2 separate regions of the Homo sapiens genome follow, and region 2 is linked to region 1. Evidence: fine-mapped expression QTL. Tissue or cell type: unexposed skin. Region 1 holds a variant in brackets; the other region holds the start of a gene. All regions are shown on one strand. Distances are from middle to middle.

What was found. PIP is the estimated chance that this variant, and not a neighbour inherited with it, causes the effect.
Region 2: LINC00632 starts here. The variant in region 1 is fine-mapped to the expression of LINC00632 in unexposed skin (GTEx, PIP above 0.99). The same link has a PIP of 0.9 or more in sun-exposed skin.

What each region holds. Positions count from the first base shown.
Region 1 is chrX:140,760,356-140,768,697 of GRCh38, forward strand. All of the region lies in intron 3 of LINC00632 (long intergenic non-protein coding RNA 632), which reads left to right. Among named protein-coding and RNA genes, the nearest start is that of LINC00632, 55 kb to the left of the region's middle. The variant G/A (reference allele first, on the strand shown) is at 4,745.
Region 2 is chrX:140,705,948-140,714,289 of GRCh38, forward strand. It overlaps LINC00632 (long intergenic non-protein coding RNA 632), which reads left to right and starts at 3,812. Exons shown (of 5, transcript NR_173140.2): 1 at 3,812-3,858; 2 at 5,674-5,709.

The DNA.
Region 1 (8,342 bases):
TTTACTTCTAGCTGGGGTCTCAGATAAGGATTTACCAAATAGATCAGATTGGAGGTGAGCTTTAAAAGCTAAGCAGAAGTTCAACAGGGAAAGGAGTGAGGGATGTGGTAAAACAGAAGAAATAGCTTGAATAGGCCGGGCGCGGTGGCTCACGCTTGTAATCCCAGCACTTTGGGAGGCCGAGGCGGGTGGATCACCTGAGGACAGGAGTTCAAGACTAGCCTTACCAACATGGAGAAACCCTGTCTCTACTAAAAATACAACGATTAGCTGGGCATGGTGGCATGCGCCTGTAATCCCAGCTACTTGGGAAGCTGAGGCAGGAGAATCACTTGAACCCGGGAGGCAGAGGTTGCAGTGAGCAACCTATATATAATATATATATATCTGGTCCTCAACAGCTAAAAATGGCCTAGCCAGAATGTTGGCAGCCAAGGCAAGTTGGGCAACCAATACAATGTCATGTCCGAGCTAGAGAGTTTCAAAGAGCTCCTCCATGTATGATATAAATCACATCAGGAGAGCTTGCAAACAGTAAGGTTCACCTGTGGTTAAACTTAAGGCTGTTCATAAAGTCTAGCAATAAAACTATTTCTTTCCCATGTACCAGGTGTCTTAGTTTTCACACTCCCACCACAACTTGAAATGTTTAATATGAAAGTGTGACTATCTGCAAGTAACACTAAAATATTGTCCCAGGAGGCTTGTTCACAAGAAATAGGCACAGCCTGGGAACAATGATCTGCAAAGCTCTGGAACCTGCTTTTGTTTGCATTTACCCTCCTTGTAGTTTTGGACACACTCAAGTACAGCTGCATTTAGCAGCTGGTCCATGATTTGGTCTATTCTCATTGTGTCCCAAACTGCAGACTCTGCAGATGAATGTCAGTGTAAACATGACTCTTTCTGATGGGTTGCCCTAACCTTTGGTTCATTTAATCTGGTACTTGGTCATCACTAAGCACAAAGGCTGCTGTTACAAGACAGAGACATCTTAGTGAGTACTGGAAACACCCACAAATCTTCCCTCTCAAATGAGCTTTAGCACGTGAGCTCTGAGGTCCCTTTGCAGATTCACAAGCAGCTGGAAGTTTCTGAGACACTGAACAATTAAAATGGACCTCTTCTTGAGAACTCTGTGGCTTACACTGTCGAAGCTCTAAGCAAACGTTGTTTTGTAGGTTCAAAAGTTGGAACTCATACTGAATTGGAAAAATTATTGTATGTCTTAATCAGAAAAGGATTTAGGGTAGCTAGTAGCAGGCATTCTGCCAGGAGTCTCACAGCCCTCCAAGGTTTAAGCCTTAAGTATCTTCTTCCCAATTTATGTGTCGTGCATCATAAAATGGGTCTAAGATAACAACATGTTTAGATAAACATTAATTAAACCTTTAGCTAAAAAAATTGTTTGCCTCCTTAGAATATTTGTTGGAGAGGGGATGTTTTGGATGGGTCCTGTTTGTTTGAAAAGACTACTCAAGGGAGTTTCCCAAAATAAATGTCCTTGTGGCAGAGACTCAAAATCATTCATAGAATAGAACTGGAAATGTAGAAATGAGAGAGCCCAAATTCAGAGGTGTTAGGTTCAGCAAACAGAGCATGACGTTTGGTTCGAGCCCACCTGTAGGACCTTGAGTAAGCCAATGTTTACACTCAGTTTCTGCATCTGAAAAAATATGGCAAAGAAGATGTGCTTACATCACAGAATTGTGGTGAGGGAGGATTAACTAAAATACTATACTTTGGGAAATAGTTTGTAAATTTCAAAGTGCCATTAAAATGTAATGAATTACTATTATAATCATCACTGTCTGAGGTCCTACAGCTTATAGCGACCTCGTCAGTTTTTCGAAAAGAGAGAGAGAGAGAGAGAGAGAGAGAGAGAGAGCACTCTTATCTTTCCCCACTAGATGGCAGGCGAGCCACTTGGTAAAGTACTGATTGGCTTAGGACTCTAGAAACCACAGCAGGATTTTGGTTTGTGAAGCAGCGTAGCAATGGACAAAGGGTGAATTAGAAGTCATGAAAAGCAGAGACAGCCTGTATCCCATCGGTTTGCAGTTTACCAGCATTTCGTGTGTATGAAAACATGGTCTTTTTCTTTTGACTGTGAGAAAAATGATAGCTAAACAAATAATTTATCTAAGAAGGAAAATGTTGAGCCCACTCAATTACAGCTAACAGACTTAACGATTATTTGTAACACCACTTTATAGGTAATGTCTTCATCTATATCAGGGATTGACAAACTGCTTCTGTAACAGTAAATATTTCTGGCTGTGAGGGTTAAATGGTTTATGTTGAAACTATTCAGCTTTGCCACTAGCAGAAAAGCAGCTTGAGACAATATGAAAATAAGTGGGCATGAATAGGTTACTATAAACGTTTATTTATGGACACCGAATTTTGAAATTCACATAACTTACACTTGTCACAAAATATTCTTCTTTTGATATTTTTTGAGCACTAAAAAATGTAAACATTATTTTTAGGTGAAAGATTGTACAAAAAATGACCATAGGCGTGATTTGACTGGCAAGCAGTAGTTTGCAGATCCCTGGGCTAATGTTAAAGACTTCTTAGCTATCAGATTAGCAGTCTCCTTAATCTATATATTTATAACTCTCATAACACATATTTCAATGTGGTTAGTATATTTTTTGCATGTATAAATTACTAAAAATCCATGTGATATTTTTGCCTACATCTGTTATTGTCTTGTTTGTTAAAGACTATAGACAAAAAAATTCAAGTAGTAGGCCAGGCGCGGTGGCTCACGCCTGTAATCCCAGCATTTTGGGAGGCCAAGGCGGGCAGATCACCTGAGGTCAGGAGTTCAAAACCAGCCTGGCCAACATGGTGAAACCCCGTCTCTATTAAAACAAAAAAATACAAATATTAGCCAGGCATAGTGGCGGGTGCCTGTAATCTCAGCTACTTAGGAGGCTGAGGCAGGAGAATCGCTTGAACCCAGGAGGCAGAGGTTGCAGTGAGCCGAGATTGTGCCACTGCACTCCAGCCTGGGTGACAGAGGGAGACTCTGTCTCAAAAAAAAAAAAAAAAAAAATTCTAGTAGTTGGTGCATTGTTCTTGGGTTTGTCAGAAAGAAAGCACACAGTTAAATGTGAATTTCAGTTAAAAAACTAAAAACAAAAGGGATTCACTGCTTTCTCTGAGACTCAATTTTAACTGGGTGAACTAAATTGCTAAGTCTGATATTTGTTCTTGTACTGACCGATCCTCATTTATTAAGGCCTTAATAAATGAAGTTGAATATCTGAAGACAAGACTTCTCCAGTAAAATATGTCTTTGGGGAATTGGGAGAAATATGGATCTTCACTGGCCTGGTTGTTTTCCGTGCACTTTAACGCATTAAAACAACTGTATGGCATTAACAGCTGTTTTTCACATCCATTTTCTAGAAGAACAAATTCTGAGCTGCCAGTCTCAGTTGAACAAGCCATTTAAAATGCTTTGTAAGAATCTCAGAGTAACCTGTGGACAAGCACTTGCCATTTTATGTTGCGAAGGGCTTCAGAGAAATTTGAGGTCTTATAAAGGAATTGAGTAGGAACAGCAAATAAAATCCTCCCAGGCTGGCGTTCTGTGAAACTGAGCTTCCTTCAGGCCGTTTCACAACAGAAACTCGGTCCTCCTCTGAAAGCTTTTTTATACCCCTTGATGGAGGTGTCAAGCGTGCACAGGCAGCAATTCGTAGGGCCTGCTTTAGAGAGGTTTCTTTTTGTGTGTATCTGTTAGGATTCACTACTGGTATTAAATATTAACCCACATTTAATTTGCCTCGTGACTTTTCACGACAGATATTGAATGTTAAATACTCTCCAAATCGGATGTTTTTTCCAGTTTTAAGATTTGACGCCCTTATGATCGAATCCATCCACGACTTTTACAGTTATTGAATAACCAACAGACCCTTGGAGGGTCTCTTACCGCTCTGGACTTGAGTTGGTTAATTCCGCTGCAGAGACGGAGTGGGGCGGGGGCGGGGGTGGGGGTGGGGGTGGGGGTGAGTGGTGTAACTGAGGAAGAGTCCCTGGCATACTGCAACTAGGTCAGAAGTGACAGCATTCAGCCCTCCCCTCCTTAGGGAGTGGGGTAAGGGGGCGACCCCGCCCAGTGCAGAGGGTGGCGAGTCAGGAGCCGACGAATGCTGGAGAGGCCATCCGCAGGGGCGGGTCTCTCCAGAGAGCAGCCGGGTGACAACGTGGCACAGAACGGCACTGCATCGGAGTAGGCACACTGCAAAGACGAGACGAGTCCTCCCCAGAGAGGGGAGGCGGTTAAGGAGAGGAGATTGCGTGGCTCGGAGCAGCCAGACCCGGTAAGCCGACTCCTTCCCGTATTCCGCTTTAACCAAGCTTGTTTCCCTGGCGGCCCCACAAATTCCCTGAGCGGAGCGTCTTCGCTGGCTCGCAGCCAGCCAGTCAGAGCCCACCTCTGCGACCTCCTCCTCCTTCCCATCCTGAGGGCTCCTGCCTCGGCTCCCGGCTTCCTCCTCCGGGCTATCTTTTACCCCTTCGGTAGCTGGAAAATCGCCCTCACTCAATCACCACGGTGGTAAATAGGGCAAAACGAGCAAGGCACTCGCCTCGGGTGCAAAATTTAAGGCGGCACCAAGATACTCAGTAATCAAGATAAAACTGTTCATGCAGTCTCTTTAAAATTCAAAGTTATAGCCAAAATTCCGCAAGAAGCTAGATAAGAAATATTAAATAAGGGCAA[G/A]CTCAGACCTTGCACTTGAACGACTTAGCCTCACTTGCCTCACCCGAATCCCCGACGCAGCTAATCAACTCTGAAGTGATTCCCTCCTCTCCGTGGTGCCACGTAGTAGACCTCCGGTTTTCGTTGTGTATACGCCTTCCTGGTTGTGTGGGAAGGGGCAGGGACTGAGCCTCAAGTAGCGCAGCCCAGTGCTTTGTTCACCGAGGCCCTGGGGTCAACGTGGATTTTGGAGTAGCCCAAAGCTGAGAGCTTATGCAGCCGCCCCAAGTTGCAAAGCTTTGCATTGGAACCGCCCGATCCCCACAGAAGCAAAGTTCGAGGGGAAACTGCACTCCCTTAATTAGTATTTAGGAACCCCTTCAATAATTGAATTGAGTATAAAATCTTTAAAGTAACTACAAATAGCAGGGAACGGCTTTTGGAATTGTTTTTCTAGAAGAGGGACGCCTCTATGCTTAGAGATTCCTTGTTCCTCTCTAGCTTCCCATGTGTATTTGGTGGTATGGCAGTTCAGTCTGAAGTTGCAATGATACAAGCACCTTTAATGAGGATCACACTCAATAACTTAGGAAGCACCATTTACCTCTCCTAGTAAGTGACTAGACACTGTTAGGTGCTGGCTAAAAGGGGTTTTCAATTCTTACCCCTAGAGCCATTTAATGCTGATCTTGAATTGTTTGCTGCTATTACCGTTAAGGGAGGCGACAAGGGGGGCAAGTAGCTCCGGAGTAGGGGATGGACTGGTTTTATTTATAAATGCTTCTTTTTGTCTTATGCGGGCCAGTGAAAAATGAGGTAAGAGGAAGATCTGTAAAAGATCTGGAGAAGATCAGGAAACGATTGTTCAAATCCGTGTGCCTTTTCTTAAAATCTTTTGAGGTTTTGGGCTTGACCAGCTCTTCAAAAGGAAGAAAAGGGCACATGTGATCCCTGGCCTGCTAAACAGAGTTTGCTTCCCTTGAGGAGGTATCAAGCCAAATTCTACTTAACCTGGAATGGGGAAAAGGTGGGCAGAACGGTCATTGTCGGCATCGCCAAACGGGGGTCACGGCAGATCCCCTTAGCTGTTGGATTTCTTATAGGCCTGGTTTAGCTGTTCCACGCTGTAGCCAGCAGAGGGCACTGTTGCTACATAGAATCTTTTTTGACTGTTTTTGGTGGTGAATTTTCAGAGCTATTTAAAAAACTTCCATCCAGTAAGAAGTATGAACGATTTTCCATGAAATTTTAATGTGAAAAATAGATTATTATTAAAAACTGATGGATGTCTATTTGGTTGTTAACCCATTGAACCATAGAAAGAGAGTGAAGATGTTCCATAACAATCAAAGATTAAAATAGCAAGAACAAAAAATAAATGTGATAATAAATATCAGCATCATATCCCTCAATTGTTTCGAACATAAGTAGTTAGGGCTTTTGCTCATAGGGATGATACTTAAATTTTCAAATGAAGAAAGTTGATTTGTGAATTTATATTACTCATTTGGAAGAATGAAAACTGGGATATGCATGGTCATGTGATCTTATAATGTACAATTCAGTTTTCTACATAGAAGTCTCCAGTAAAATATGCTTCTACGTGCAGTGGGAATTTAAAAATTAACAATGTAAAAGATGTATAATTAATTATCATAAATGAAATAACAAAGAAAGAATGTGTATGATTCTGAGTAGGATTAGAATTGAAATCTGTTCGTTATGTTTAGGTAATATTTGTAGAAATTTAATGGAAGAGTTGTATCGATACTAATTTATTTCTTACCGTTTTGATAGGAATATGTGGAACAAAAAGAAAATTCATATTGTAGAAACTTAGACTCACATTTTGTGTTAGAACCTATGAGCTACTCTGGGTGTTTTATTTTAAGATGGTTTTTGCTCATTGTTATGCTACAGGTATTATCATACATCTTTTCTAAAGGTGGAGGCCTTCTTTTTTATTTAACCAGAAGTTTCTTGTGTTAGGATGATTTTGAGCAGTTAAGAATTGCAAGAAAAAATCTTAACATCATTAGTTTCAAGTGCATTGTAATGGATGAGTGTGTCATCTAGAGCAAGATTGCATAGCTGTACATTTTGGGCTTTCCTGCTTAATAAATGTGTGACCTCAGACAGATTATGTAACTTGTCTGAGCTTCAATTTCCTCATCTATAAAATAATAATAATAATGCCTAACACATAGGGTTGTATTAAATATTAAGTGAGTTAATATATGTAAAGCAGCTAGAACAGTGCCTGGCCCAGAAAAATTCACTTTATTAGTGTTATTTACCTATTATTTTTTTCCATTTTTGTTAATAATATTTGAACATGATGCATTAATTTCCCCTTAGTTTATTGTTTAGCTCTAGAGCTGCTTAGATTCATTTGCATATAATATTGCTTATTTAATTTTAAAGAAGTGGTTCTATGCACATTTAGTAACTTACGCCTCTTAAACATTGGCTATGCAAGAGAATTCTTGAATAATTTCATGAAGCACTCTTTGTCTCTTACTCAGAGTAGAATATTTTGAAGACATCTTTTCTCTGAAGTTTTTAGACAAGCTATAAACTAGTTTGTATTAGTCAGAGTTCTCCAGTGAGACAGAACCAATGGGATAGCTAGCTAGATAGATAGATAGAGGAGAGGGGATTTATTAGAGAAATTTGTTCATGTGGTTATGGAGGATGAGAAGGCCAAGACTGAGGGACTGACAATTGGCAAGGGCTTTCTTGCTGTGTCATCCCATGGCAAAGGAGAGAGAGGCCAAACTTGCCCTTTTGTAAGGAATCCATTCCCATGAAATGCCATTCCCATGAATGGCATTAATCTATTCATGACGGTGGAGCCTAACCACCTCTTAAAGATCTCACCTCTTAATACTGTTACAGTGGCAATTACGTTTCAACATGAGTTTTGGAGGAGACAGACATTCAAACCATAACGCAGCTCCATGACAGAATTTTCACATGCTCCAGAATGTGAATGACAGCTACTCATTTTAAGGGAAAACAGCTTAGTTTAGTGTAAAAAACATGGATATTGGAGTCTGGAGCTTGGACGCTAGCTGTGTGACTTTGGACATGCCACATGTCATCTTTGAGCTTCTGCTTTTTCAAATACAAGGATGTTGTAAGGCCAAAATATGATCAGGTTGTAAAGGGTTTGCCACATACTGAGTGCTCACATCAAAACATATTAGTTCCATTTCCTTGACCTTACTCCCTTTCTCCTTTGATAATGCTTCATTCAAGGGTAGATCGAAGACCTCAGGACCAAGGAGGAAATGAAATGTTAAGAAGATTTGACTGTAACAAAAGGGTTAGTGTTAACACATCCATTCTGTACCTATACAATAGAAGTGCAATAGTAATCTTAGAAGCTGTGAAAGAGCACTGCTGCTTCCTCTCTCTGGGCCTCTGAATTAATCAATGATGTAATATATATAACACATATAATATATATACTATATTATATATTTATTATATATACTATATTATATATTTATTATATATAAATATATATTTATCACATAATAAATATATATACTATATAATATATTTATTATATATAATAAATCTATAATAAATATACATACTATATAATATATTT
Region 2 (8,342 bases), 54 kb before region 1:
ACCTTTTAATAATTTTTTTCTTTTTCTTTCTTTTTTCTTTTTCTTTTTTGAGGTGAGGTCTCACTCTGTCGCCCAGGCTGGAGTGCAGTGGCACGATCTCAGCTCACTGCAACCTCTGCCTCTCATGTTCAGGCGATTCTCCCACTTCAGCCTCCTCAATAGCAGGCACGTGCCTGCCACCATGCCCAGCTAATTTTGTTGTTCTTTTGTTTTTGAGACAGAGTCTCGCTCTGTCGCCCAGTCTGGAGTGCAGTGGCTCGATCTTGGCTCACTGCAACCTCCGCCTCCTGGGTGCAAGCAATTCTCCTGTCTCAGCCTCCCAAGTAGCTGGGACTACAGGCGCACACCACCACACCCAGCTAATTTTTGTATTTTTTAGTAGAGATGAGGTGTCACCATATCAGTCAGGCTGGTCTCGAACTCCTGACCTCAGGTCATGCACCTGCCTCAGCCTCCCAAAGTGCTGGAATTATCGGTGTAAGCCACCGTGCCTGGCCCTAATTTTTGTATTTTTAGTAGAGATGGAGTTTTACCATGTTGGCCAGACTGGTCTTGAACTCCTAACCTCAGGTGATCCGTCTGCCTCTGCCTCCCAAAGTGCTGGGATTACAGACATAAGCCACCGCGCCAGGCCATTAATTTTTTTTTTCATTTAAAATACTTCAAGCCTACAGAAAAGCTCAAAAAATAACACAGTGAACACCTGTGTATACTTGACCTAGATTTACCAATGATTAACCTATTGCTACATTGCATTTGGTAGTTGTATCTTTTTAATCTTCATTAATCTAGGATAGTTTCCCTGCCCTCCCACTTTTTAAAAATAGTTTGATGGTTCAGGCCAGCTGTCTTCTAGATTGTTCCACAATCTGGATTTAATGATTGATTCTTCAGATAAAATATTTTTGGCTAGTACTTAAATAGATGACGTGTGCTTCCCATTTCATCACATCAAAAGGCACATTTCAGTTTGTGCTATTATTGGTGACATGAAGTTTAATCAGTTAAGGCAGGGGTATTCCAAATCACTCCATTGAAAATGCACATTTTTCTCTTTTATATTTAATTAGTAGCCTATGGGCAATACTTAAAAGTCCTGTGAATATTCTCTTCCCCGGTGTTTTGCCTAATGGTTTTGGTATGCATTGACGATTCTTGCCTAAACCTGTTATTATACTGATGGTTTCTTTTCTTTTCTTTTCTTTTTTTCTTTTTTTTTTTTCTTCGGAGACGGAGTCCCTCTCTGTCACCCAGGCTGGAGTGTAGTGGCGCGATCTCAGCTCACTGCAACCTCTGCCTCCAGAGTTCAAGCAATTCTCCTGCCTCAGCCTCTCGAGTAGCTGGGATTACAGGCACCTGCCACCATGACTAGCTAATTTTTGTATTTTTAGTAGAGACGAAGTTTCACCATGTTGGCCAGGCTGGTCTCGAACTCCTGACCTCAGGAGATCCACCTGTGTCGGCCTCCCAAAGTGCTGGGATTACAGGCAAAGTGCTGGGATTACAGGCATGAGCCACCGTGCCCGGCCTATACTGAAGGTTTCTAAATGGTCAGTTACAAATTCTGTCATTCCTTACAAATATATCTCCTTTTAGAAAAAAGCAGTTTCTTTTCTTTTCTGTTATTCTTTTAGAACAAAGCAGTTACCCTCTCCATTACCACTTTTTCTTTTTTACTATCACTGTGGACTCACGGATTTTTTTATTCTATGTTTTATAGTCAACGACCATTATTATTCCTTTTGATGATCAAATTGTACCAGAGTTAGCCAGTGAGAGCCCTTTCAAGACATCTCCTGTGTCTTTTTGATGTGTTCTCATCATTCTTCAAGTGCTTTTTGGCTTATAATACAAGATACTTCAAGTTCACTTGTATTTTTCCTGCCCCATGTATAGCGTCAGCTATTTTTCCAGTAAACCTTGGTTTCTTTTAGTAGACAACAGTATTTAGAAACTAATACCTGGGCATTAGATGTACTCATTGCTGCTGGTGTGTCATATTAATTGCTACTGGAGTGTCATTGCCTCCTTTCTGTGGACAGACCTAGTAAGATTTGTCTTAGGAAATCATGAGTTCATACTAAAAATTCCGATTCAAATCCGTCACCAAAGGTTTCTTTAGGATTCTCTTCACTTTCTCAGATTCATATTTGTATCTCCTTTCTCCTATAGTGAGAACTCTGGTTCCAAAAATACCCCCAAAAAATGCATTTACTCGTTTGTTCTAACCATGCAGAATATACACACGTGGTGTGTGTGTGTGTGTGTGTGTGTGTGTGTGTATGTATGTATGTGTCATAGTTTTAGAATTTACTTCTCCAATAACATTACCAATAATACAGATTATATTTAAGTTTTCTGGTCAGAACCAAATGATGACGTTTGTTAAAAATACAGATTTCTGGGCTTGTCCCTAGCCTGCCAAAACAGAATACTTGGGAATAGGTCCCTTTAGTCCTCATTTTAAAAAATTAACACTCCAGGTGATTTAGAAGAACTCTGATGTTTGTGATTCAATGATGTGATGAGGAGCTTGAGCTTTAAGTAAGAAAGGTTGGTATCCTCGTTCTGTTACTTAGTCTTTTCAGGTTCATCACCTGGTACTTAGAAAAGTGCCTGACCTATAATAAATACATAATAAAGGTACTGATCTTTTTTTATTATAAGGTACTGAACTGGATTGCCACATATTTCCTATCTGGCAGAAATTAAATTAGTTTTAAAAGCAGTTTATGTAATGATGTAATGTTGAAAAGTTGTTCTGAAGTGAATACATTTGTGAAAATAGAAGTAAAAATTTTCTAAAAGCTACACTGTAAAGATAAGTGTGCATGATCAGTTGAGATGTACGAATATATGTTTGTATATTTTAACATTATATATGTGTTTCTTTACTTCTTCCACCCATCGGGAGTCCAGTATTTTGGGGCAGATTATGTAACAATTCTAATGATAACGTTACCCAAAACTGATGAAAAAAAGAATAACTTCGACAAAATACTTCTATTTTGCAGCCTGTGCATATTATTACCTTATGAACTTATAAAGGGAGGATGGACTATTTTTTATTCACTTTTATAATCCCTGTCCCCACCACCATATTTTGACTGTGGTATTACAGGAATACCTCATTTTGTTGCACGACACGTATTTGTGGAGTGAATGAATCGTTCTTTCTCTCTTTTTTATTGTAGGAAAAATATGTAACAAAAAATTTCCACTTGATTTTAACTGTACAGTTTGGTAGCATTGAGCACATTCATATTAGAACAGGGTTCTACCGACAGCATTGTACCAAGTGAGGGAACCAAAAAATTTTCTGCTTTTCATTGTGGAATGTCATTTGAATCAGAAATCTTCTGGGGACTTTGTTATTTGAATTTCTAACTTTCCTTATTACTTGCCTGGGAGAAAACACATATTGAACAACAAAATGGTAATGTTCATCCTCAGAGACTAGACCTTGTCAATGTTCTCTGATGCCTAGTAGGACCACTGCAGGAAAAAAAAAAAAGTTAATGAGACTGTTGCTAGGAGACGGGAGAGCCAAAAGCTCATAGTCTTGTAGGGGTTCCTCTGGAAATCAAGGCAACTTAAGTGTGTTTTGGATTAGAGGTTTAGCTATTAAAATCTGCCCTTTGAAGAGCATGCACATTTTAGCATATAATGTTTAGTATGATTTCATGTTTTTGGAGAATTTTTGAGGATAATCTCAAGGCATTTCATTTCTTTCCATAGGGATAATCCCTTTTTTTCAGAGTACATCTCATTTCCAAGTGGCTGTTGCGCTGCTGTTTGCCCCCACTCCTTCAGTGCGACAGACAGCCTCAGAGCTGGTGGGGAGACAGCATGCCACTGGTAAGTAGCTGAGAAATATTTTGTAAAATAGATATCCAGACTAAGATTTTTAAAGCAAGCGACATGTTTTGAGGGAATAGAATAATGCAAAATTGTGTAGGAATCTCTGATTCTAATCAGCAGCATTGGGAAATGGATTAATTAAATTCTAAATATTCCCTGGTCATTTTTCTAGTTTAAAGCTTGTTTCTTAAATGATGGAGTTGCTAGGAGGCAATATAGAAACTTTCCCCTTGTGATTCTTGTAAAATATTTCCTAAAATAAGATTTAATGAAGATGTTACTAAATTGGAGAATTGCTTTCAGAATTGTACCTCAGCTTTACGATATTTGTATTTGACGTGATGAAATGGGTTATGATTCAAGATGTTCTCAAACCTGGTTTATTTTCTCAGTGCTGGGAGAGCATAAGAAAAATATTACTTTGCAATGCAGAAAAGGATACGATGCCTCATTTTTTTAAATTAAGAAAGTCGTGTGACGGGATGTCTGTACTAGAGAGAAAATGAGGAAGAGGGCAGTTTGTAATAATGTTCAGATTGATTGCTTCATGTGAGATATGAAAGTGTATTCAATGAGAAACATTAAAATTTGACTTTAGGATGAAAAAATCATGAAAAAGTAATAATGAATATTATGATCGTGCTTTCATTGGAAAAAATTAATTTGTATTTTTGGACAGCGATTTATACAGTAAAGACAAGAGTGTTCTCGGTGCTTCTTTTTTTGAAAAGGGATGTGAGATGGATAGCAGAGATTCTTATCAACGAAGCTTTAATGTTTGTTTCTGAAACATTCCTGAAAACAGAGCTTTTGTAGCTCTGTTTCTGCAAGAAAAACGAAAAAAAAAAGTGAAGTGGTGGTTTATTCCTTTGAAATTCAAACTGGCCCTTGAACGTGAGGAAAAGAAAAATGATAGATAAATAGATTTCGTTTTTGAGTTAGATGACAAAGCAGCAGCAATCAAGGAGGAAAAATAAGAATGAAAAAGCTTAAAAGAAAGTCCTCAAGATGGGCCATTTTCCCAAGTTGAACATGTCTGCTGGTAGCATGTTTTGCAGAGGGAAAGGGAGAGAACATACTGGAGGCAAAGGGAGGGGGTGTTGAACAGAGCACTGCGGCAAAGAGAGTGACTGACGCATCCAGGGACATGTGACCATTCTCTGGTGTAGCGAAGAAAATTTGCCAGGACTCCATCTTGTATAAGACATTCTATACATACTGACATGCAAATAATGCTATAATCTTTCTGTAGTACATAATGAGCTCGTTTTGCGTGATCCTCCACTGGTGTATATTGGTATTTTGTCTTTGCTTCTACGCCTTCCTCTCTGTGCTTCCAGTGCTTTTATACACTTACTAAAATATTAAAAATGATGTTTTCCCCTTTATTATAAAAATATCATAGTCATTGTAGTAAATTTTGAATAATGTAAAGATGATTATAAAAATTACCCATAATCCCGTAACTTAGAGATAATTACTATTAATCTTATTACTGTCAGTCTCTTTTCTCTGAATATATGCAAATAAATGCATAGAAATATATATTTTATACAAAATGAAGATCACATGTACATACAATTTTTAGCCTGTTTGATCCATTAAATATATATTGGGAGCAATTCCCCATATTTTAAAATATTCCACAAGAATGTGGTGTTTTGTGGATGTATAATTTTCTATCATATAGATGTCCCACTAAATGTCCAATTATTGAATGTTTATATGTGCATTATTTTTGCTGTTATAAATAACTGAAGGAATATCTTTCCATATAAATATCTGTGTGCTTTTCTGGTTTTTTCTCCCTAGGAAAAATTCGTAGACATGGAATTCCTGGATCAAATGGTATGAAACAATTTAAGGTTTCTTCCCCCCAACACCTATCACCTAATTTATTTATTATATGTGGTATAAACATTATTTTCCAGCCATTGTTTTCCTATTAATTTTTACCATTTATGGTGGTGATTTTTTGATATTTTACAGTTTTACATGTTAGATTTCCATATCTGACCATTTTAAGTGTTGTGATTTTTTTCTTTCCTTTGATTAGTGTATTCACCTGTATTTTTTTCTAGTTATTTAATTGCTTCATTTTTTACAATTAACTCCTTAATCCACCTAGAATTCATTTTGATATATGGTATACAGTAGGATTTAATTTTTTTTCCCCCTAATAGGTCACCGATTGTTTCAGCATCACTTATTGAATAATCCAACGCAACAACTGTTCTTCCATTAGATAGGGTGTAGCTTTCCACAGGTCGGCCATTTTCTCTTTACCCAAGATGGTTACATTTTGCAATGGTACTCCTACCTTCCTGCAGCTTCTGACAGCATACTAGAGCACCATGTTTGTGCTTGTGCGTTTCAAAAATCCTAGGCACATGCAGATTAGGGCAGTATTTTAAACAGGATTTTTTTTTTCATTTTAAATATGTTAAGTTTGTCACATTCTTGTTGCAAATTAAAATTAAGGAATCCAAATATATGAAACCACGGTTTCAGGTGTGCTATTCCTCTTAGGCGCACCTGATATCCCAATTGTGTGTTAAAAAAAAAAATACCCCCGGGGTTAAAGTTCCTCCTTCAACCTCTTTTTTTTTTTTTTTTTTACTCTTCAGATACTCAAAGAGTTAAAGTTGGCTCGACTCAGTTCTTGGAATTTTCTAGAATGATATAAGAGGGAAATACAAGAAATGTATGAGGAGTAGAAGTAAATAATGTTTGCCAGCCTGTTGCTGGCCGTAGTCTCATGTAGGGATTTAAAGGAGCTAGGGTGAGTCCTAACCCATGCCACCACTGCCACTACCTCTTCTAGATAGGGACACACCCCAGTGAGCCACCTCTTTTCACTGCAGGTGTAAGGCTCAAGACATAAGGCAAGGAGTTTTTTAGTAGGAGATGGGTTAAATATTGCCCAGAGAAATCTGACAATTAAAATCACTTGCTACCTATTACCAACCCTCTCCCGGGCCCCCAACGAAGCTTTCTCTCTCTATTGACTTCTGCACCGGGCCTCTTAGCTTTACTGATTCTGGGGGGGAAAAAAAAGGGCGGGGGGAGGATGGCGCGTGAGTGGGAGGCTGCCTTGCCTGCGGTTATTGCAAGGGGCTCCTTTGGCTCACAGCCTCAGTCCCAGTAGTTTCCTGACTTGCCGCATTAGACTGTGTTTTGTTTATGAGGAGGCTGGTTTCCCTGGCAATGGCAGCTCGCCAGTGCATGCGCATTTGCTCCACTGCAGTAGCAGAATGCGGCTGTGGGGCCAGGGGAGGGGTCCTGAGGGCCGCAGTGGCTGGAGTTATTTGGCAGACATGACGTCAGTTTTTCTGAGCTAAACTGCCATCGTTACTGTATATGGAGCATTTTTTTTTTTTTAAATAAAGCTTGGAAGGCTTTTAGCCACTCCTTTTCTTTCCTCCCAAATTAACTGCTCTCTATATGCTCACCAGTGACCACGAAGGCTTTCTAAGGTTTGAGGCCACCGATGCCCTCAGGGCCCCGAGGGGAATCATAATAGTATGAGAACAGGAAACAGACTGCCTGGTTTCAGACCTCGGCTGCTTGCTAGTTGCATGACTGTGGGACGGGTTACTTAAATCTCTTCGTTTCCTCAGATGTAAAATGGGGATGCTAACAGCATGTTTAGAACAGTGTCTGGCACATAGTAACCATTATGTAAGTGTTGTCTATTATTATTTGTAGATACTAAGGGGGACTTGCCTGGAAGCAGACTTGTGTCCGCAGTATACAAACTCACCCTTTAATGCACACACTGACCAGATAACACAAACACATTTACCCCCACAGCACCTAGACTCTTCTCACAGTACACACACTTGCCTTCCAGTACACAGACATATCCAAAGGCACACCGACAAGCACCACAGCAAAAAGATGTTCCCCAGAACACATGGACACCCCAATCCCCGTATCATTAGACTCTCCCAGAGGCACGTATGTACTGCTTAATGCAGAGACTCACCTGAGGCACACTGATGCACCCCGCATGACACAGACTTGCCCCCCCATAAGGACTCTACTATGACACACAGACAATCCCAACATCACACACTGTTCCCACATCACACGAACCCATTTTAGGAAACACACAGCATACAGACTTACCCCATAGAACACGGCTTCCCCGACAAGCACACATACTCTCAAGGCCAGTAGACTCACCCCACAGCACACAGACTTTCTCTAGAGTGTACAGCTTCTTCCCACAGCAAACAGACTCTCCCCAGGGCACACAGACACCCCTGACATCACATACTCTCACCACAGACCATAGACTCGTCCTAGAGCACAGGGACTCTTGCCAATGAAACAGACTTTCCCGAGAATAGACTCATGAGACAGCTTGAAGACCCGCATCATGACACAAAGACTCTCCCACAACAGACAGACTCACCCCATTGTGTACAGACAAGCACCATAGGCCACAGACCATCACCTCAGGACACAGACTTGCC